Regions from separate parts of the Homo sapiens genome. Here region 2 is linked to region 1. Evidence: fine-mapped expression QTL. A gene starts in region 1. The other region holds a variant in brackets. All regions are shown on one strand. Distances are from middle to middle. Region 1 holds the start of ARFGEF2 (ARF guanine nucleotide exchange factor 2). Region 2 overlaps STAU1 (staufen double-stranded RNA binding protein 1).

Evidence for each region.
Region 2: its variant is fine-mapped to the expression of ARFGEF2 in blood mononuclear cells (TOPMed, PIP 0.98).

Annotation. Positions count from the first base shown.
Region 1 is chr20:48,915,848-48,927,420 of GRCh38, reverse strand. ARFGEF2 (ARF guanine nucleotide exchange factor 2) reads right to left here and starts at 5,710. Exons shown (of 39, transcript NM_006420.3): 1 at 5,411-5,710. The coding sequence starts at 5,531. RefSeq lists an enhancer at 5,000-5,079 and silencers at 5,450-5,499, 5,540-5,639, 5,870-5,949.
Region 2 is chr20:49,105,036-49,116,608 of GRCh38, reverse strand. STAU1 (staufen double-stranded RNA binding protein 1) reads left to right here. Exons shown (of 14, transcript NM_017453.4): 13 at 742-827; 14 at 1,716-3,270. The coding sequence ends at 1,731. Among named protein-coding and RNA genes, the nearest start is that of CSE1L, 65 kb to the right of the region's middle. The variant T/A (reference allele first, on the strand shown) is at 5,040.

The sequences.
Region 1 (11,573 bases):
CACCATGCCCCGCCACGTTACATCAATTTAGAGATGTTTTTTATATTTTTCAAGTTTCACAGTAATCCTCATGATGAGAATGGTTTTTCTGAACACATCAAAATTAGAATAAAAGGATCATATGGAAGAAAAAGCAATTTATGTATCATATGGACACACAGATGTCCATATGATAAATGCCCATTTGTATGTCTTACACACATTCATATACAACTAAGATTTAGGAATATACTTCCTTAACTGGATCCCTTAACAATATTTAAAGTTAAAATCTTTTCTACCTTTAAATAAACAAACAACTCCCAGGAGCCACTCCTTCTTCCTCTTTACAACACAACCAAACTTTGGGAGAGCTGACTATGCTCACCATCTGTTTCCTCACCTCCCACGCCTCAACCCATGCCAGTCTGGCTTTCACCTCCATCACAGCATCAAAAAAGCTCAAGCTAAGGTCACCAATGACCCATCCACATCCTAAATCTCGTATATTAAACAGAGGAGCAAATCTAAGAATGGATGTTATGATCTATGTGAAGCTACATCATGTGCTGCAGCTACGTTTCCCCACCCAGCTGTGTGGATGTGGATGGGCAAGTTGCTCTCTTCCTTAGCCTTGGTCTCCCATTGCCTGCTGTACCCAAAGAAATGAATCACAATCCAGAATTAATAACAGGTCACAACTCCAGAATTAATAAGAGGGAGTTTACTGCTGATGAAGAGATATCATCAATTAGAAAAACTGATTAACTCCAGCCCAGACAACAGAAAAACCCCGTCTCTACTAAAAACAGAAAAATTAGCCAGGTGGGTGGTACGCCCCTGTAGTCCTAGCTACTTGGGAGGCTGAAATGGGAGGATCACCTGAGCCAGGGATGGAGAGGTTGCAGTGACCTGAGATCGCACCCCACCACTGCACTCCAGCCTGGGCCACAGAGCAAGATCCTGTCTCAAAAAAAAAAAAGAAAAACTGAATAACTCAAATGAAACTTATGTGTAACCAGCTCTTTACTCTCATTTCCTTCTTTCCATTAGCCCCTAATTAAAGTAAACCTAGTATATATGTAGTAAAAACCTGAAGAAAAGAGCTGTGATCTTTTTGACTCAAGGCTTTCAAACATATCTCAAAATTCAGCTATAGAAAATACAGTCTCCTGAAACTCCACTGCGGTATACTGATTGTTTTAAAAACTCTACTGAGTATTTCAAACATAACAACTTTCATATGGAGAAGCAAGAAAACATGGTAGTAATAGTTAAGATCTTGGACTATGGAGCCAGATTGCCTGTGTTTATACCCTGGTTCCATCACTTACTGAGTTACCCTGGCCAACTTAACTTCTCTGGGCCTCAGTGGGAATGATGATAATAGTGAGAACTAAATTGCATGAAAAGCCCACTTTACTGTGCCTGGAACTCAGAAATGCTTAGTACATAGGAGATATAATACAACATGTGATCTTTAAAAGTCATTCAATTTCATATGAAAATACGTATGTTTACTATTCTTTTTAAATTTTCTTGATAATGGCTGAGAATAATGACAACTAGTAATTATAGAGCACCTAGCCATTACTTAGCACTTTTGTGTGAGGGTCTCACCCTGCTGTCTCGGCTGGAGTGCAATGGCATGATCTCAACTCACTGCAACCTCCATTTCCTAGGTTCAAGTCATCCTCCCACCTCAGCCTCCCAAGTAGCCGGGACTACAGGCATGCACTACCACACCCAGCTAATTTTTATATATTTTTTTAGAGATGGGGTTTTGCCATGTTGCACAGGCTGGTCTCAAACTCCTGGGCTCATGCAATCTGCCCACCTTGGCCTCCTAAAGCGCTGGAATTACAGGCATGAACCACAGTGCCCAGCCATAGATAAATTTTTCCATATCGAATTTTAAATAGATTATCCTATTAAGCCTCCAAACTTCATATAGTTTAAGAGCAGAAACATAACTTAAAGATACATGATGGGAGAAGATGAGTCTTAAATAAGACAATTATAAAAGGGAGGTTTAAGAATGTAATTATATTCTCCAACAGAGGGCTGAAAGGTTGAAGATTATTAATATATATCAAAGTTTCATAACAAGGTAAAGAGCAACAGTATCCTTGGGGCGATGAATACTCTCACAGGCTGTCTTGATTTCTCCAGATAAAGGTTGGAAGGGCACTATCCCCTACTTGGGCAGTCCCTATTTATGCTTTTGGTGTATAGTGCGGACGAATCATTGAGATTACTCCAAATCTGCTCCATCATGATTATCACAATTTTTACAAAGGACAACCCCTGTCTTCATTGAGTTTAGGAAGTTAATACTCCAACACAGCCTTTCAATCACGTAATTACATTCTTATTTACTGCATCTACAAACCAAATAGAGCAGTAAGTCATTCCTGAACGAGGAACTAAGGTTAAGAACATCAAACCAGAGTAATTACAGCTGCTGTGGTTTGTCACAGCTTAAAATAATAATAATAAAAAAGTAATAGCAAGCATTTACTGAGCACCTACTACATGCCAAGTTTTTTGCACATGTCAATTAACTTAATCTTTACAATAATCCTATAAGGAAGTAACTTGTCCAAGATCACAAACGTAGCAAGTGGAAGGCAGGAGGTTTGAACACAGAAGTCTAGGGTCCCAAAGAATACACTCCTAGCTAACATCTACACTATACAGTCCCTGCAGCCCTGATCCTCTCCCCTAATATGCTACAGCTGGTGGAATCATATCACAGAAGCTGTTTCCTGTAAATGCTCTCTATCATCCAAGCATTTCAACTTTGAGCCGTCATTTACAGTTCCTCTTATCACAATTAACAACAATCTATACATGGTAATCTCTAAAATACCACATAGCTGCTCCTTATACACTGGCTCGTTTCAGCCTTTTTTTTTTTTTTTTTTTTTGAGACAGAGTCTTGTTTTGTCGCCCAGGCTGGAGTGCAGTGGCGCAATCTCAGCTCACTGCAAGCTCCACCTCCTGGGTTCACGCCATTCTCCTGCCTCAGCCTCCCGAGTAGGTGGGACTACAGGTGCCCGCCACAGCGCCCAGCTAATTTTTTTTGTTATTTTTAGTAGAGGCGGGGTTTCACCGTGTTAGCCAGGATGGTTTCGATCTCCTGACCTCGTGATCTGCCTGCCTCAGCCTCCTAAAGTGCTGGGATTACAGGCGTGAGCCACCGCACCTGGCCCCAAATTTCTCTTCTTAAATGGGACTACTGGACACAAGACTGGGCCTTGAGAGACAGAGAGAAATATCACCAGGCATTCTGCTATGTGTTCTACTCTAAGTAAAAGCAGTCATTTCTATTTAACAGCAATGACACACAATTATTCTCTTAAAAAAGATGGTCACTTAACAATATGCATACGTTCCCTTATGACAGTTCCTATTATGCCATTGGCACAACCCCAATTTGTGATTCATATAACCTGTAGTCAAATTACTTCCTATCTAGGCCATTTTTTACAATTCACTACTAAAAACTGAAAACATGCATTCCACTACTTGTGTTAGGAAAACTTGAACTTCTGAACAAAGATACGATCCGAAAATATCTATTAAATTCTCAGCGTTAATGGCCCTTCATGACCCAGATGAAAATTTTATAAGTAGGTTCCAATAATATGATGCACACTTTGGTGAAAATTTTATGTTAAGAAGTTTTCTGAAGAAAAAATAAAAACTCTTCTGCCAAATAACTATTCTGAAACCTCCACAACAATATCGAGAAGATAGAGTCCAGGCAGATTTCAACGTGGAGTTATAAATACCAGGCTCTTGCCTAACAAACTGCTTTGCAGTGCTTATCCCACATTGCTGATAAAATACCCAACAGCCTTGGTTATTGGAAGAGAAAAGCTTTAAAAATCTACATCTCAGTAAATTCCTTCCACTGATCCTGAATTTCACGGACTAGCAACTGTTTCCAGATTATCTAGACTACCACCTCTGCATCAATAGTTGGCCCCTGAGGGAGTCTCAGGGCCCTCTGAAAATCTGATGAAAGCCAGGGACCTTCTTTCCAGGGAAGTGCAAAGTTCACCAGCCTATTTCTAAATGCCAAAAGAACACTACTCTATACTTTGTAGCAAATGAAAGGAGAAAGGTGATAACAATCTCAAACTATGTGACTAAAAATCAAACTTTCCATTTGCTCATTTTGTTAGGAAAAACAGGCCTTTACAGATTCCAAACCAAAGACGTTGGGGCAGTGAATTAGCTTGAAAACAGCTCTGGTCAAATGCATGGATTCTCCCACCAAGAACTCTCTTCTGAAACTCCATATGGTGGATAGTTCTTGCCTTTCAGTATTCAGCTCAAGTGTCACCCTCTTGGAAAAGATTACTTTCCTGACCACCTGATTACTTTTCCTCTTGGAAAAGATTACTTTCCTGACCATGGAAAGCAGTCCTCAAGCCCTCTTTATCACATCTTGCTGTTTTATTTTCAAAATAGTATTTATCAGTATTCCAAAATACCTCACCTATTTTCTTAATTAATTATTTTGTCTCCTCTATTCGAGTATAAGCTCCATAGGGGTAAGGACCATGTCCGTCTTGTTCCCCACTGAATTCTCAGTACCTGGTATGCAGTGGGCACTTGATAAATATTTGTTAAATGATTAAAACTGAAAGATAGGATAGTGATTTTGCTATCAATTATCAAGCCTTTAACTATTAGTTAGAATTCTCCCTCTTTCCATAATCTGAGGGTCCATTCAATCAGCAAATATTTATCGAGCACCTACTGTGCGCCAGGCACTGTTGCAAGCGCAAGGGATACAGCAATGAATAAGTCAGACAAGTATCTTCGCGCTGAAGACCTTGTATTTTAGTGGACTGCTAGGAATAAGCAGATGTCTTGCTCACTACAATGCCTGGGAGATCCAGAACACCTTCTACAATCCTTCCTTGAGGGAAAGAGCTATGGGAGATCCCCAAACCAAAGGAAAACATTCTCCAACGGGCACTTCCAAAACAAGAATCAGGGGTTTCCCTAAACCAGTTGGACGGCTCTTCCTACATGCTCTGTTCACCTAGGGGAACCCCAATCAGCAGAGCTCAGGTAACGAAAAAACTTGGGGCAAGGGCTACTGTTTCTAGGACTTGGAGGTGGTGAGGGGAGGAACCAGGAAACAGGGCGACAAGGAATCGTGGCAAAAGCCCTGAGCTGGAACCCTGAGGAACAAGCTCTGGTTGTCACCAACTTGCTAGGTGACCTTGGGCCAGTCCCGAGCTGCCCGGGCAACACTTCCTCCGGGGGTATAATGAGGAGGAGGCCGGAAGGGTGGAATTCGGGATCGGGGGGAAGCGGAGGCCAGGAGGCCGGGCCAAGGCCGAGTAGGATAGGGCAACGGCCGACGTGCTGAGGCCAGCGCGGGGCAGGGCGGGAGCGGCTCACCCACCGAGCGCCACCTGGCAGGCCCTGCGCAGCTGGGAGTGCTGGGGCCGCTTCACCTCCTTGTCGGCTAGGATCTTCTCCAGGGCCCGGGACACGAACATGCTCTTGGTCTGGCTCTCCTGCATGGCCCCGGCCCGGCGGGGGCTGACGGCCCCGCGGGCGGGCGGCGTGAGCGAGATGGCGAGCTAGGCTGCGGGCCCGGCGTCCCGGCCGGCACCGGCCGCGTCCGTCCGCGCCGCCCCGTCAGGAAGCGACACCTCGGCCCCACGGCGCCGCCATGTTGGAGCGCGTCACGTGACCACGTGACTGGCGAGGCCGCTACGGCCGCCTAGCGTCCGTCGGCCCCGTGACCCCCAGCGGGGCGGAGCCTAAGGCTGGGGGCGGAGCGGAGTCAGGTGGGCGAGAGACAGAAGGCGAGGGTGGAGGGTGGAAGAAGAGAAGGTGGGGAGGGGAGTGGGCATGGGCGAAGGGTATAGGGGACGCGGGGGCTAAAGAAAGGCGAAAGCGGGGAGAGGTGGTGATGGAGATGAGAGGAGAGAAGCGCAAGGTAACGGGAGGTGAAGGGGAGCACGAGAATGGAGATGACGTGGGTAAGAGAGGAGATGAGGAAAGGAAGGGGAACGAGAGGATTGGCAAAAAAGAACGGTGACAAGGAGAGATGATAAAGGGGCAGGAGGAGAAGGCGAGTAGGAAAGAAAAGAGGTGAGGGAGCGAGGACTGGAAGCTGGTGAATGAATGAGAAGTGATCGGGAGTAAGGGGCGTCAGGAGGAAGGAGGAAGGGCGATGAGAAGGCGGCGGCGGAGGGGAAGGGGGGAGGCCCGGCGCGGCGGCTCACGCCTCTAATCCCAGCGCTTCCGGAGGCCAAGGCGGGAGCATCGCTTGAGCCCAGGAGTTCGAGACCAGCCTGGGCAACATAGGGAGACCCTTTCTCTACAAAATAAAAAGTAAAACAGCCGGGCCTGGTGGCGCTGCTTGTGGTCCCAGCTACTGGGGAGGCTGAGGTGGGAGGATCGCTTGAGCCTCGGAGGTTGAGGCCGCAGTGAGCTGTGATGGCACCACTGCACTCCAGCCTGGGCCACAGAAGGAGACCCTGTCTCAAAAAACAAACAAACAAAAAGGAGGTGAGTTAGTTATGGAGGAGATGAGGTGGTGTGGGAAGAGGTGAGAGGGAGGCACAGAGGTAAAAGAAAAAGGAGAAAGACAGGAGGGAGAGGGGAAGTGAAAAGGAAAGAGAGGTAGAAATGAGAGGAGGGGAAAGAGTAGGAGAAAGGGTGAAGGGAGAGGAGGTAGGAAGGGGAGCTGTCAGGAAGAACAGAAAAGAAAGAAAAAGATGAGAGTAACAAGTTAGGAAAACAGGAAAGAGATGGAAAAAGGAATGGTGTAGGAAGGAGGTGAAGGGGAAGGAGGTGAGGAAGAGTGGAAAGAACATGCTGGGAGAATAGGAAATGGAAGGGGTGGAGGGAGAGGGGAGGTGAAAGGAAGACAGAGAGGGAGAGAGAGAAGGTGTGTTTATGTCTATTCTCCACAAGCAGGGTTTCACCACAGCCACTGGCAAGATACACACATCCATATGACCCTCCTGTCACAGCAGCAGTGACCTTGCAGTTCAGTGAACTTCTGTTTATTGAGTGTCGCAGCTGTGCATAGTATACCAGGAAGCACTGACCTCTCTCTGTAGTTTATCCTGTTATAAACCTGTGAACCCTCACAGTGCAGTGAACTGGACCTGGGCTTTGGGAGTCAGGGGAAGAAACCCAGATGGCCAGTGTCACACAGCCTGCAAATGAGTGCTGGGGGACAGATACTCTGGCCCCAAGGCAGCTTCCACTCCATTCCACAATGATGCTATCACAGCAACCATTAGTGGTGTCCCCTGGGCCCCTTCCCCCAAGGGCAGCCATGGGCTTATGCAAAGACAGTTGTCTTCCTTGGAAACCTCAGAGGCACAGACATCCCAGGCAGGCATGCTCCAGTGCTCGGGTCTTAGCTCAGACGTCTCTGGGAAGCCTTCCCTGACCTGTCTCAAGTAGCCCCCTCTCTCCCTAGCTGATGTTTTCCACAGCACTTTCTGAGCTTTTGTACGTGTTGACTATTTGTTGTCTCACTAAAGCACGGTTGCAGAGGGGCAGGCCATATCCCCAGGGCCCGGTCTACAGTCACGTTGAATATTTCATGGCCTTAAATTCTGCAAGTTCCACTGCTTGTAATGCGATTTCGCAGTCACTCCCAGCAAGAGGTAGAGTTTGTTTCTCCACCAGCCTGAACCTAGACTAGCCTTGTGGCTGGTCTTGACCAATAGAATGTGACAGAAAAGAGGCTGCACAAGTCCCAGAGCATCAACAGCCCTGGCTCACTTCTTCCTTTACTGCCTGGGAATGCTGAATGACACTCAGAAGCAGCCCTGGGCAGGTCAGTGGCTCATGCCTGTAATTCCAACACTGGGAGGCTGAAGTAGGAGGATCACTTGAGCCCAGGAGTTCGAGACCAGCCTGGGCAACATATCAAGACCCTGATGCTACAAAAAATTTAAAAAATTATCCAGGAATAGTGATGCCTGCCTGTAGTCCCAGCTACTTGGAGGGCTGAGGTGGGAAGATTGCTTGAGCCCAGGAGGTGGAGGCTGTAGTGAGCCGTGACTGCCCCTCTGCCCTCCAGCCTGGGAGACAGAGCAAGACTCTGTCTCAAACAACAACAACAATAATAACAACAAAATGGTAGCAGCCCCAGAAGAAAGAGCACGTGGATAGGGAGCCCAGTCATTGCAGCTCTCCCAGCCGACCCACCAGCTGAATACAGCAGCACAAGTGACTAGTGAGACCAGCAGAAAAACTGCCCAGCTGAGCCACAGAATAGCAGAAAACAAAAAATCATTACTTTATGCCACTACATTCTGGGGTCTTGCTTGTTACACAGCAATAGATCACTGAGACACACCTCAATCCTTATGTGTTGAATGAATGAATGAATGAATGAAATTCTCTAGAGTACAGTGCAGTCTGCTGAGTAACATGTTTTGATCCCACCCCACTCCCCCCAACACACACACACAGCAAGGCCAGACTATGTCACTCCCCTGCCGAAAATCCAACAGAGGCTCCCTATTGCCCTTGGAATTGAGTCCAAGTTCAGTATCATACTGTGGCCAACAAGGTGTGATAGAGGCCCTGCCATTTTCTCTGAGCTCATCTCCTTCCTGCTTTTCTTCAGGACTCTGGCCACTCTGGGCTCCTTTTTGTTCCCATCAAGGGCTTGTCTTACATTTTTCTGTCCCTCTTAATCAGTGCTTCTCCATGAAGGCAGTACCACCCCCAGACGCATTTTGAAATTTTGTTGGGGGGATATTTCTGTTGTCGTAATAGAGGGAACAGGAATGCTAGATAACATCCTGCAGAGAGCTGAACAATCCTATGTAACAAACAATTCAATGTATGCCACATGGCCAGACACTCCTGGAGATGAAAAACTTATTGATAATGATCTGAGCCTAGAATCTAAATCTGCTTTACATATAAAATGTTTTTTGCTGTAGTTTTTTTGTTTGTTTGTTTGTTTGTTTTGAGATGGAGTCTCGCACTGTCGCCTAGGCTGAAGTGCAGTGGTGTGATCTCCACTCACTGCAACCTCTGCCTCCCAGGTTCAAGCGATTCTCCTGCCTCAGCCTCCTGAGTAGCTGGGATTACAGGCACCCGCCACCACGCCTGGCTAATTTTATTTGTATTTTTAGTAGAGACGAGGTTTCACTATGTTGGCCAGGCTGGTCTCCAACTCCTGACCTCAAGTGATCTGCCCGCCTTGGCCTCCCAAAGTGCTGGGATTACAGGCGTGAGCCACCATGCCCGGCCCTTGTGTAGATTTAATATCACCACATTTTCCAGAAATGCAAATATCATTGCAATTCAAGGGAAATATATATGTATATGTATATGTATATGTATATATACATATGTATTTTGAGACAAGGTTTCACTCCATCACCCAGGCTGGAGTGCAGTGGTGTGATCGAAGCATGCAACACCATGCCCAGCTAATTTGAAAAAATATTTTTGTAGAGATGGGGGTCTCCCTATGTTGTCCCTGCTGGTCTGGAACTTCTGGCTGAAGCGATCCTCCCACCTTTGCCTCCCAAAGTGCTGGGATTACAGATGTGTGCCACCATGCCTGGCTAATTTTACAATTTTTTTTTTTGAGGCAGAGTCTCACTCTGTTGCCCAGGCTGGAGTGCAGTGGTGTGATCATGGCTCACTGCAGCCTCCACCTCTTGGGCTCAAATGATCCTCCAAATTCAGCCTCCAGAGTAGCTGGGACTACAGGTGTGTGCCACCGTACCTGACTAATTGTTAAATATTTTTGTGGAGATAGGGTCTCCCTGTGTTGCCCAGGTTGGTCTCAAACTCCTGGTCTCAAGCGATCCTCCTACCTCCACCTTCCAAAGTGCTGGGATTACAGGAGTAAGCCAGCACACCTGGCCAGAAAAATGTATTTTGTCTGGAACTTTACCAAATATCATTTACCACTTCAAAGCCACATTGCTGTCATTTACACCAGCTATGGTATCTGATTTGCTGCTAGGGCACTCCAATCAGCCTGCACATATGGCTGTGGCAATTCCAGGGGATCCCACTTTTAGGTTCCAGCATCCGCCTGCTTCATTACACCTTCTAGTGTAATTGTATCTGAGCATTTATCTATTGAAATAAAATTTGCAAATTATACATTGCATTCCTTTTGTTTCACCTTCGTAGTCTTATTAAAACTGTGTGTGGGAAGATTTTATTACCTATGAATTTCATTTCAGAACAGCTAACAAAGGCCTTGCAGTTATAAAAGGGGGTGTGTAGTATCTGCTAGGGTTGGAAAGCACTGATGGCTGCCCCCTTCCCACCACTCTGCCCTCAACTCAATGTCACCCACAAGGTCACCAACCTCCCAGTTTTATCCCTCCTACCTCCACTACTTGCTTCCATATCATCTTTTGTTAGTTGCACTGAACTGAATTTTAAATGATGGTGTTTATTTATCTGTATATTAGTTATCTGTTGCTGCATGATAAATGACCTGACACTTAGCAGCTTAAAAGCAAACATTTCTTATCTCACAGTTTCTGTGGGTCAGGAATTTGGGAGCAGCATGGGTGTTTCTGGATCAGGATCTGTTGAGATTGCTGTTGAGCTGTCATCTGGGGCTGCAGTCAGATGAGGCTCAACTGGGGCTGGAGGATCAACTTCCAAAGAGGCTCCCTCTCATGGGACAGAGGCCTCAGTTCCACTCCTCTCGGTAGAGCTGCTTGCATGTGCTCATGCTGTGGTATCTCCTGTTTCCCAGAGTGAGTGACCCAAGAGAAAATGAGAGGAAGAGAGAGAGAGAGGGAGAAAAAGGGAAAGAGACTGAAGGAAGCAGAAGCAATTTTTGTTTGTTTGTTTTTTGAGATGGAGTCTTGCTCTGTCGCCCAGACTGGAGTGCAGTGGCACCATCTTGGCTCACTGCAACCTACTCATCCCAGGTTCAAGTGATTCTCCTGCCTCAGCCTCCCAAGTAGCTGAGACTACAGGCTTGCACCCCCACACCCAGCTAATTTTTGCATTTTTGGTAAAGATGGGGTTTCACCATGTTGACCAGGATGGTCTCAATCTCTTGACCTCGTGATCCACCCGCCTTGGCCTCCCAAAGTGCTGGGATTACAGGCATGAACCACCGCGCCCAGCCAGCAGAAGCAATTTTTATCACCAGTTCCAAAGTGGCCCACCATGCAGTCTGACCAGGAGTGCTGTTTTGGTGACTCAAATACCATGGTAGGCATAAATATGGGTGATGTGGTCTTAAAATGGTGAACAGTATTTGGTAAAGTTCCAGACAGAATGCAATTTTCCTTTACACATAGTCGTGTGAGAAGTGAGTGGCTAAGTCCAGCTCACACTCAAGGGGAGAATTATTAGGCTCCATCTTTAAAGGAAAGTTGGGTTTCCACAATGTGTTTGCTCACTTATCATCATGCCTTCCACAGGCAGAATGTGAATTCCATGAAGGCAGAGACATTGTCTTTTTCGTAGCTCTATGCCCAGAACACATAGTAGACGCTTAATAACTATTTGTGGAATGAATGAATGAATGGAACTGGCTTGAGTAGAGTTTACGGATTTAATATTAAATCAGCAGTTATTTGGAGGAC
Region 2 (11,573 bases), 190 kb before region 1:
CCAGCACTGCGGGAGGCTGAGGCAGGCGGATCACCTGAGCTCAGGAGTTCAAGACCAGCCTGGCCAACGTGGTGAAACCCCATCTCTACTAAAAATACAAAAAAAAATTAGCCAGGTGTGGTGGTGGGTGCCTGTAATCCCAGCTACTTGGGAGGCCAAGGCAGGAGAATCGCTTGAACCCGGGAGGTGGAGGTTGCAGTGAGCCAAGATTGCACTACTGCACTCCAGCCTGGGCAGCTGGGTGAGACTGCGTTTCAAAACAAAACAGTGTCTCCGAAGATAATGTAATAAGAAGAAAAATACATGATAGGCCGGGTGTGGAGGCTCACACCTGTAATTCCAGCACTTTGGGAGGCCAAGGTGGAAGGATCGCTTGAGCCTAGGAGTTTGAGACCAGCCTGGGCAACTTAGTGAGACCCTGTCTCTATAGAAAGAAAAATACATGATAGATTTTTGTTAGAAAGCAGGATATAACATTTATACAGTCTGGTTACCACATGGTTAAAAATACTAGAAGGAAAAATATAACATTTTCAGAGGTTATGATTCAGTGAGGTAACTGAATATTTTTTAATTTGTATTTTAAATTAAAAATTCAAAGTTTTATTTAGTAGTACCAGAGTTGAAGAAGTTGCCACCTGTTTGCTGGGCAGCAGGAACTCTCTTGCCTGCCTGACCAGTGTATTATGCTGTGGTCCCAAGCGGTGGCTGTGGCTTTACCCTTCTTTCCATCCCCACTAGGCTGCGCTGAACATCTTAAAGTTGCTGTCTGAGTTGGACCAACAAAGTACAGAGATGCCAAGAACAGGAAACGGACCAATGTCTGTGTGAGTGCACTGATGAAGGGGAAGGCGCTGATGATGGGGAGGCTGCCCCTCGTTTGTGTTGAGTTTACACTATCTGCTGACTCAGCGGGGAAATATTTGCCTGAGTTACTTTCTGGCCCTTTTGCCTGAAAGTTTTCCAGATTCTCTGGGCAGAAAGCTCTACTTTTAAAAGACATTTTGAGGCTGGGAACAGCGGCTCACACCTGTAATCCCAGCACTTTGGGTGGCCAAGGCAGGTGGATCATGAGGTGTCAGGTGTTTAAGACCAGCCTGGCCAAGATGGTGAAACCCTGTCTCTACTAAAAATACAAAAATTAGCCAGGTGTGGTGGCAGGCACCTGTAATCCCAGCTACTTGGGAGGCCGAGGCAGAGAACTGCTTAAAACCTGGGAGGCGGAGGTTGCAGTGAGCCGACATAGCGCCACTGCACTCCAGCCTGGGCGACAGAGCAAGACTCCGTCCCAAAAAAAAACAAAAAAACCTTTTTGAGTTGGTCATACCTTCACATGGTCAGAACTCTGCATTATTTTACAAGGTACAATCTTCCCCTCGGACAGCCCCCATCCCATCCCTCCTATTCTCCCCACCGCCTCCCCCATAGATCACATTTTTACTAGTTTCTCCTGTATCTTTCCTGTATGTTTCTTTATACAAATATAGACATATATTTCTTCCCTCATTTTCTTCCTTTCCCCCCACAGAGATAAGTACACACACTCTCCTTGCGTATTTTACTTACTGGCATACCCTGGGAAAACTTTTGTTATCATAAACTGGGGCTTTTAGTATTGTACTTCCTGATGTTTGCCAATTTCTTTTCATTTTTAACAGTACTTTAATTCTCTTACATTTCAAAACTAGTGTCATTTTCATTTTTCTTCCTTAAAGGTGTGGGAGGTGCTGAACCTTTTCTGGCCATGAACCATTATAAAATCCCAACATATATACTGAAAATACTGAAACTGCTTTGAAAATTTGGAATTTCTGATACCTCCAGTGGGCCGAGAGACACGGTGGGTAAAGGATGTGGGCAGCAGCAGGGAAGACAACAGAAACACAAGGAGGCGGCTGTGGCCGGGCTGGACTGTGCTGGGGTTTGTTGTGATGGCCACTCGGTGACCTGGCGGTCCCTACGCAATAGCAGCTGCCTGTGGGGAAGAAGGGCTGCCCAGCCAGCTGGTTCTCCCGGGACACCAGCAGATCCACACCCTGGGCACCTCCGTGTTTGGTCTTTTTTTTCCCCTGTGTGAAAGAAGAAACGGCACGACCCCTTCTCAAGCTGGCTCACTCAGACACATTGGGACAAACCCTGGACAGCCATGCCAGAGAGAGGCCTTTGACCGGCCCCAGAGCTAAAAGCACCAGAGAAAATCAAATGCTTCCTACTCAGCGTGACCCAACTTTTCTAGTGTGCCACGGCCCCACCACCTCCTGCAGTACCCACACCATCACCACTGCTTTCTCTTCCAACAGTGATCTGTATTCTTAGTTTCATTATTTTCTTTTGATTGATATGACACTATATAAAATTTTCATTTGAGAATTTCTCAATTGTATCTAGTTAAATAGCACAGTTTGGAAACTTGTCTGAGACTGACTTTATCAATAATCTAACCGACAAAGATCATATCCATGTGTATGTGGTTAGACATTTTTATTTCATTGACTAACCCAGGACAGTTTCAGTGATGCAAATTGTGTGCCCTCTGGTTCAGCTGAAACAGTCCTGGACTTTCAAAAACCTTGAATAAGTCTCCCACAGTTGTATAAATTGGACAATTTAGGAATTTTAAACTTTAGATGATCATTTGGTTCCATTTTTATTTCATTTTTATTTTTGTTAATGCAAACAGGACTTAAATGAACTTTGATCTCTGTTTTAAAGATTATTAAAAAACATTGTGTATCTATACATATGGCTCTTGAGGACTTAGCTTTCACTACACTACAGGATATGATCTCCATGTAGTCCATATAAACCTGCAGAGTGATTTTCCAGAGTGCTCGATACTGTTAATTACATCTCCATTAGGGCTGAAAAGAATGACCTACGTTTCTGTATACAGCTGTGTTGCTTTTGATGTTGTGTTACTGTACACAGAAGTGTGTGCACTGAGGCTCTGCGTGTGGTCCGTATGGAAAGCCTGGTAGCCCTGCGAGTTAAGTACTGCTTCCATTCATTGTTTACGCTGGAATTTTTCTCCCCATGGAATGTAAGTAAAACTTAAGTGTTTGTCATCAATAAATGGTAATACTAAATTTTTTTGTTAATTTATTCTCAAATGCCACTACTGCTAGGTTGGTCCCCTCCCAACTTGCCCCTATCCTTTTTTTATTTTTAAGAAAAAAACTTTGTAATGCTTGTGATTCCATCTGGGCAAAAGTCTGAAGATCTGAAATAACTTTATATCAAACCATTGATCAATAAACAGCTACTAATGAAGTGTTTGGTCCTGTTGAGCAGTAACTAAAATAAGGGAAGATGTGAGTAAGGGGATGGAAGCTCGTCGTGGGGGGACCAGGGCCAGCCCCTCTGGGAAGCGTTGCTGCCTCAGAGGCATGTTGGGTACCTGGATGTAGGGACTTGTGCCCCGTCCAGACCTGACATTGCTACCCAAAGAAATGACCCCAAGGAGCTGAGAGGAGACTGCCGGACACTTCCCAGGGCATCCTCATCTCTCACCATAACTGAGCACTGAGGAGGACATGCGTTCCAGCCTGGTTGAGGGTTGGGCTAGTTGGTTTTCATTTTTTAATTTTAGAAGAAGTGGAAGAAGATTATAAAGGCTTCACTGTAAAGCCAGCCTATGATTGTACTGCCGGAATAACTGAAAGTGATCAGAAGGTTATGGAAAACACTAAGGGCAGAAGGAAATGCAACATTTTGAGGAGAAAAGCAGTGAAAGGAGAAAAAGTGTCTTTACGTCTTTAAAAACAACAAAAAAAGAATTCATGGACCTGTGACTCACATCACAACCCTCCCCCAGACTGAAGGTTCTTAGAGAAGCTGAGCCTGGGGCCCTGACTTGATGCACTTTCGCAGGGAGCGTACTTGCTGGCGGCAACACTGGAAGCCGACCAGTGTGATCTTTTGTGTCTTCGACTATTTATAAAAATTCATTCTGGGCCGGGCGCAGTGGCTCACACCTGTAATCCCAGCACTTTGGGGGGCCGAGGCAGGTGGATCATGAGGTCAGGAGATCGAGACCATCCTGGCTAACACGGTGAAACCCCACCTCTACTAAAAATACAAAAAAATTAGCCGGGCATGGTGGCAGGTGCCTGTAGTCCCAGCTACTCGGGAGGCTGAGGCAGGAGAATGGTGTGAACCCGGGAGGCGGAGCTTGCCGTGAGCAGAGATCGCGCCACTGCACTCCAGCCTGGGCGACAGAGCGAGACTCCGTCTCAAAAAAAAAAAAAAAACTCATTCTGGGTACTTCATTGAAGAAGGGGTGCCCTGGGGTAACTTTGGTAATACACTCAAGTAAGCATTAAGTGTTAAAAATATTACAATAAAAAATTATAGTTCAAAAACAGTAGTAAGTTTTTCTTCTTTTTATTTTTATTTTTTTGAGATGGAGTCTGGCTCTGTCACCCAGGCTGGAGTGCAGTGGTGCAATCTGGAATCACTGCAACCTCCTCTTCCCGGGTTCAGGCAATTCTCTTGTCTCAGCCTCCCTCCTGAGTAGCTGGGATCATAGGCACGTGCCAGTGCGCTTGGCCAATTTTTGTATTTTTAGTAGAGATGGGATTTCACCATGTTGGCCAGGCTGGTCTCGAACTGACCTCAAGTGATCTGGCCACCTCGGCCTCCCAAAGTGCTGGGATTACAGGTGTGAGCCACTGCGCCTGGCTTAAGTTTTTCATGAGTAGCTTTGCATAGTAAGACATTACAATATAGCTTTTTTTTTCCTTTTTGAGACAGTAGCTTGCTCTGTTACCCAGGCTGGGTTGCAGTGGCCTCAAGCGATCCTCCTGCCTTGACTTCCCAGAGTGTTGGGATTACAGGTGTGAGCCACTGCACCCAGCAGTATATAGCCTTTCTTTACTACTTTTTTTTTTAAAGACAGTGTCCTGCTCTGTCACCCACACTGGAGTGTAGTGGCATGATCACAGCTCACTGCAGCCTTGACTGGGCTCAGGTGATTCTCCCACCTCAGTTTCCTGAGTAGCTGGGACTACAGGCACATGACACCATTCCTGGCTAATGAT[T/A]TTTTTTTTTTTTTAAGAGAGAGGGTCTCACTACATTGCCCAGGCCAGTCCAACTGGGTTCAAGTGATCCTGTCATCTCATCCTCCCAAAGTGCTGGGATTGCAGGTGTGAGTCACTGCACCTAGTCCTTTAACTTTTAAAATTTTATTTTAAAATAATTTCACAGATAAAAGGTACATTTTACTGAAATTATGTGTACATTGTCTCCCCTGGTCTCCCTCTCTCTTCAAAATTTAGATATTCCCCCAAGTCAGGGAGTGAACACTGCATCCAGTCCATGGACCCCATGCAGATCTCGCCAGCTGTCCCAACAGTGTCTTGTCCTTTCCTGGTCCAGGGTCCCTGTCAAGAGGTGTGTGTTGCCTTTAGTTTTCTCCTGCTGTCTGCATCAGTCCTCTCGGCATCTGTGTTTCACGTCCTAGTGGGGTGAAGCCCGCAGACCTCTCTGTAGTACACCCTCAGCCTGGGTCTGGATGATGGTGACCAGACCTAGGCAGCACTTTTGTGGCAGGAAAGCCACAGAAATGCTGCGCTCTTCTCTGTATGTCACTCCAGGGGCATACAGTTTGTTAACCTTGGTGACCCAGGCAGATTGCTCCACTGTCAGTCAGGTCACACTATGTCTCTTGGTAATCAAGGAGTATTTTGTGGGGAGGCATCCTCAAAGCACATGACCAGCCTGTTCCTCTTCAGACCTCTACCCTCCATCCTTGTCCTTCACTTACAACTTCCATGTGAATCCACCACCACTGCCCATCCATGAGCTTCCATGTCCAATGTTCCTTCTGCCGACACCCTGCCCCTGCATGGAGGCGCCTTCCCTCCCCATTGATGCAGTGTGTCAGCTAATGGACTCCTAGTCTGGGTCGCAATCCATTGCAACCATTTATTTGATGTTCAAATTACTTCAAATTTGGACATCAGAAGACCTGTCAAGGTGACTCTTGTGTCCTTTTGGCATGTTTCCATCTTAAAATTGTAAAAAATTGTGGTAAGACACATAGAAAATTTACCATCCTATTAACCACTTTTTTTTTTTTTTTTTTAAAACAGCATCCCAATCTGTCATCCAGGCTGGAGTGCAGCAGTGTGATCCTGGCTCACTGCAACCTTGCTCTCCTGGGCTTTCCTCCTACCTCAGCCTCCCGAATAGCTGAGACTACAGGTGTGCACATCCATGCCCAGCTAATTTTTTTTTGTACAGTCGAGGTCTTGCTATGTTGCCCAGACTGCTAACTACTTTTAAGTGTACAGTTTATTCATAATGTGTAGCCACCACAATCCAACTCCATAACTTTTCATTTTGTAAAACTTAAACTGTTCCCATGAAACACTAACTCCCCTCGCATGCTCCTTCCAGCCCCTGGAAACCACCACTTGTTTATGATTTTCACTCTAGGAACCTCCTATAAATGGACAGTATCTGCCCTTCTGTGGCTGGTTTATCTTACATAGCCTAATGTCCTTAAGGTTTATCCGTGTTGTAATATGTCAATTTCCCTCCTTTGTTAAGGCTGAGTAATATTCCATTGTGTGTATATATTCCACATTTTGCTTATCAATACATTGTCAGTAGGCACTTGGGGTTGGACACGGTGACTGACACCTGTAATCCCAGCACTTTGGGAGGCCGAGGCAGGTGGATTCCCTGAGATCAGGAGTTCAAGACCAGCCTGGTCAACATAGTGAAACCCCATAGCTACTAAAAATATGCAAATTAGCTGGGCATGGTGGCGCGCACCTGTAGTCCCAGCTACTCGGGAGGCTGAGGCAGGAGAATCACTTGAACCCAGGAGGTGGAGGTTGTAGTGAGCTGAGACTGTGCCACTGTACTCCAGCTTGGGCAATAGAGTGAGACTCAGTCTAAAAAAAAAAAAGCACTTGGGTTGCTTCCACATGTGAATATTGGTATACAAAATCTTTGAGACCCTGCTTTCAACTCTTTGGGGTATGTACCCAGAAGTGGAATTGCTGCATATAATTTTTTTTTTTTTTGAGATGGAGTCTCCCTTTGCTGCCCAGGCTGGAGTCAGTGGCACGATCTCGGTTCACTGCAACCTCTGCCTCCCAGGGTCAAGTGATTCTCCTGCCTCAGCCTCCCGAGTACCTGGGATTACGGGGGCCCACCACTACACCTGGCTAATTTTTGTATTTTTAGTAGAGACGGGGGTTTACCATGTTGGCCAGGCTGGTCTTGAACTCCGGACCTCAAGTGATCTGCCCGCCTTGGCCTCCCAAAGTGTTGGGATTACAGGCGTGAGCCACTGCGTCTGACCTATTATTTTTAACATATTGAGGAACTGCCAGTTTCCCACTGCAGCCATCACTTTCCAACAGTGCATGATGGTTCCAGTTTCTCCACATTGTCGCCAATGTTTATTGTTTCGTTAAATAGTAGCTGTCCTAGTGGATATGAGGTGGTATCTCATGGGGGTTTTGGTTTGCATTTCCCTAACGATGTTGAACATCTTTTCGTATTTATTGGCCATTTGTCTATCTTCTTTGGATAAATGTCTGTCCAAGTCTTGCCCATTTTTTTTGAATCATGTTGCTTGTTGTTGAATTTTAGGAGTATTGTGTGTATTCTGGATATTAATCCCTTAACAGATGTGACTTGCAGTTTTTTTCTTCCCATTCTGTGAGTTGTTTTTTCATTCTGCAAAAGCTTTTTGCAGAAAAGCTTTTGATGCAAAAAAGGTTTTAATTTTGATGAAGTCTAGTTTGTCTATTACTTTCTTTTGTTGCCTGTTTCTGGTGTCATACTTAAGAAAACATTGCTAAGTCCAACTCATGAAGATTTGCGGATTTGCCTCATGTTTTAGTTTTAGTCTTAGATTTAGGTCTTTCATCCATTTTAAGCTAATTTTGTGTATGGTGTTAGGTAAGGGTCCAGCTTCATTCCTTGGCAAGTGCACACTGTTTTCCCAACAGTATTTGTGAAAAGACTGTCCCTCCCCCATTGAATGGTCTTGGCACCCTTGTCAAAAATTACATGGAAGGACTTCTGGATTCTCTTCCTTTGGGGGGGGGGGGGGTGTGTGTGTGTGTGTGTGTGTGTGTGTGTGTGTGTGTGTGTGTGTGTATATATATATATATATATTTTTTTTTTTTTTTTTTTTTTTTTTTTTGAGACGGAGTCTCGCTCTGTCGCCCAGGCCGGACTGCGGACTGCAGTGGCGCAATCTCGGCTCACTGCAAGCTCCGCTTCCCGGGTTCACGCCATTCTCCTGCCTCAGCCTCCCGAGTAGCTGGGACTACAGGCGCCCGCCACCGCGCCCGCCACCGCGCCCGGCTAATTTTTTGTATTTTTAGTAGAGACGGGGTTTCACCTTGTTAGCCAGGATGGTCTCGATCTCCTGACCTCATGATCCACCCGCCTCGGTCTCCCAAAGTGCTGGGATTACAGGCGTGAGCCACCGCGCCTGGCCTTTTTTTTTTTTTGAGACAGGGTCTTACTCTGTTGCCCAGACTGGAGTGCAGTGGTGCAGTCTTGGCTCACAGCCTACCAGGTAGCTGGGACTATAGGCGTGTGTCACCATGTCACCATGCCTGGCTGATTTTTTCTTTTTTTTTTTGTAGAGACAAGGTTTTACCAAGTTGCTCAGGCTGGTCTTGAACTCCTGGGCTCAAGTGATCCTCCCACCTCAGCCTCCAAAGTGCTGGGATTACAGGCGTGAACCACCGCAACCAGCCTCCTATATGTCTGTTGTTGTGCTGGTACCACACTGATTTGATTACTGTAGTAAATTTTGAAATCTTAACCTATGAGTCCTTCAGCTAAGTTTTCAAGATTGTTTTTGGTTATTCAGGGTCCCTTAGGATTCCTTATAAATTTTAGGATGGGCTTTTCTATGTCCACAAAAACTGTCATTTGTCCCCATCATTTTTTGAAGACTAACTTGACACATTGAGATATTTGGGGTTCATCTTGTTCTTTTCCTTCCCCTAGTCCTGATTCAGCCTTTTTTTTTTTTTTTTCTGAGATGGAGTCTCACTCTGTCGCCCAGGCTGGAGTGCAGTGGCACCATCTCAGCTCACTGCAACCTCCGCCTCGTGGGTTCAAGCGATTCTCCTGCCTCAGCCTCCCAAGTAGCTGGGACTACAGGTGTGCACACCACATCTGGCTAATTTTTGTATTTATGTTTAGTAGAGATGGGGTTTCACCATATTGGCCAGGCTGGTCTTGAACTTCTCACCTTATGATCCGCCCGCCTCAGCCCCCCAAAGTGCTGAGATTACAGGCGTGACCCACCACGCCTAGCCTGATTCAGCCATTTTCCTAAGGAGCCCTGGTTCCCTCTACTAGAAGACAGCATTTAGAAACCAAGATCTGAATGCTCTGAGGGCTTACTGCTACTGGGGTGTTATTGTTTCTAGACCTCTGTAGCGGACAGGAAATCTATGTGTATATATATCTATACACATCTATCTGTATGCATTTGTATACTCAGTGTTCTTTGTAGCCTTCTCCTCTATGTTCTCAGTGCATTCTCCAACACTGAGATTGTCTCTCTCTTGGATCCTACAGTAGATAAGCTTGGGACTCAGTCGGTTCCCACATTGGCATTGTTTTTTTTTTTCAAAAAGTGGGTGGTGACTGCATTGTCATGACTTTGTCCTCATGGTCATTAAAGGGAAAACTTAACGGGTAATGGTTATTTCCTCATAGCTGTCTTGAGTTTGTTGTTCTTGTCTCATCCTCCCCATTATTTTTTTCCTGAAGTATCTTAATGCTAATCCTAGACTAAAACATTCACCTGTAAGTATTTTCACCCATAGCTGGGTGTTTTTCTGGGTTTTCAGGCCTTCTTAAGCCAGAGTAATGTGGATAGGTCTTACAAACAAGTATCACTTCTGAATCTAGTTTACTGAGCTGTTTTTTTAAGTGGCTTTGTTGGGTGAATGCTCAGTGATGGACACCATAGTCTGGATCCCTCCTGTTAGGAGGGCGCCTGGGATTGGTATGATCGACAGGAAAACATATTGGCCTTTCCCAAAAGCGTGATGTTGCTGCTTGCTTTATAGGGATCAGTGTGAGTTCAGTAGAATAGGATCATCCCAGGAAGCAAACCTGAGGCCCGAGAGGTCTGGCTTTGTTTGCACATAACATGTCAGAAGCATCCACTGGCTGGGCATGGTGGCTCATCCCTGTATTCCCAGCCTTTTGGGAAGCCACGGTGAGTGGACTGCTTGAGCCCGGGAGTTTGAAACCAGCCTGAGCAACATAGAGACCCCCATCTCTACAAAACAAAAAAAAAACAGAAAACTAGCCCGGCATGGCACCATGGTGGTACCATGGGCTTGTAGTCCTAGCTACTTGGGAGGCTGATGTGGAAGAATCACTTGAGCCCGAGGTCAAGGCTGCAGTGAGCTGAGATCACGCTACTGCAACTATAGCCTAGGTGTTGGAGACTCAGCCTCAATAAAAAGCAGCAGTATTTATCACTACTTCTGGTTTAAGGGCTTAAATGCCTGTGTGCTCTTAAAAACAAAAAACTTACTTGAAATTCCAAATCAATAAATACTGGATTTGTCAAGCACTTAATCAGAGCAGGATTAGCAGAGGGAAGAGTGGAGGAGTTGGCCAATGTTCTTAAATAGGGCTTTTAAAGAGATACATTGTTTTAAGAAGCAATGGCTAACTCAAAGATAGGAGGTGGGAGTTTGTTAATGGGCAGCATAGCCATCTTCTTGGATTTTTTGTAAACCTTTCCTGTGGTGCTGAGTTCGTGGAACTTGTTACTTTGTGTACTGTACTGATGTGTTTAATGTCTGTATACAAAGCATGTAAGGACAGCATGTGCATGTGAAACTAGTCTGTAGGACATTCTCCTCAGACTTCTTTGTAATTTAAATGGCATCCCAATTTTCATTAGTGAAAACTGTAGGAGATGTGTACAGCTTTATTATGTGCTTCTAACCTAAGTTTAATATTTAAAAAATGCATTCATCTGGCCGGGTAAAGTGGCTCAGCTGCAGTCAGGAGTTCAAGACCACCAGCCTGGCCAACATGATGGAACCCCGTCTCTACTAAAAATTAGCCGGGCGTGGTGGTGGGCACCTGTAATCCCAGCTACTGGGGAGGCTGAGGTTGCAGCGAACCGAGACTGCACCATGGCACTCCAGCCTGGGTGACAAGAGCGAAACTCTGTCTCAAAAACAACAACAAAACCGTTCATCCACACATTCTTTTACATTCACTGAAACCTACAAACATCAGGTCTGCAATGACAACAGTAAAGCAGTCTATGTATAGTAGCAATTTTGTTTTGCTTTTTGAGACCGAGTTTCAGTCTTGTCCCCCAGGCTGGAGTGCAATGGCACAATCTCAGCTCACTACAACCTCCACCTCCCAGGTTCAAGTGATTCTCTTGCCTCATCCTGAGTAGCTGTGATTACAGGTGCGTGCCCTCACACCAGGCTCATTTTGTATTTTTAGTAGAGACAGGGTTGCACCATGTTGGCCAGACTGGTCTCGAACTCCTGGCCTCAGGTAACCCACCTGCCTTGGCCTCCCAAAGTGCGGGATTATAG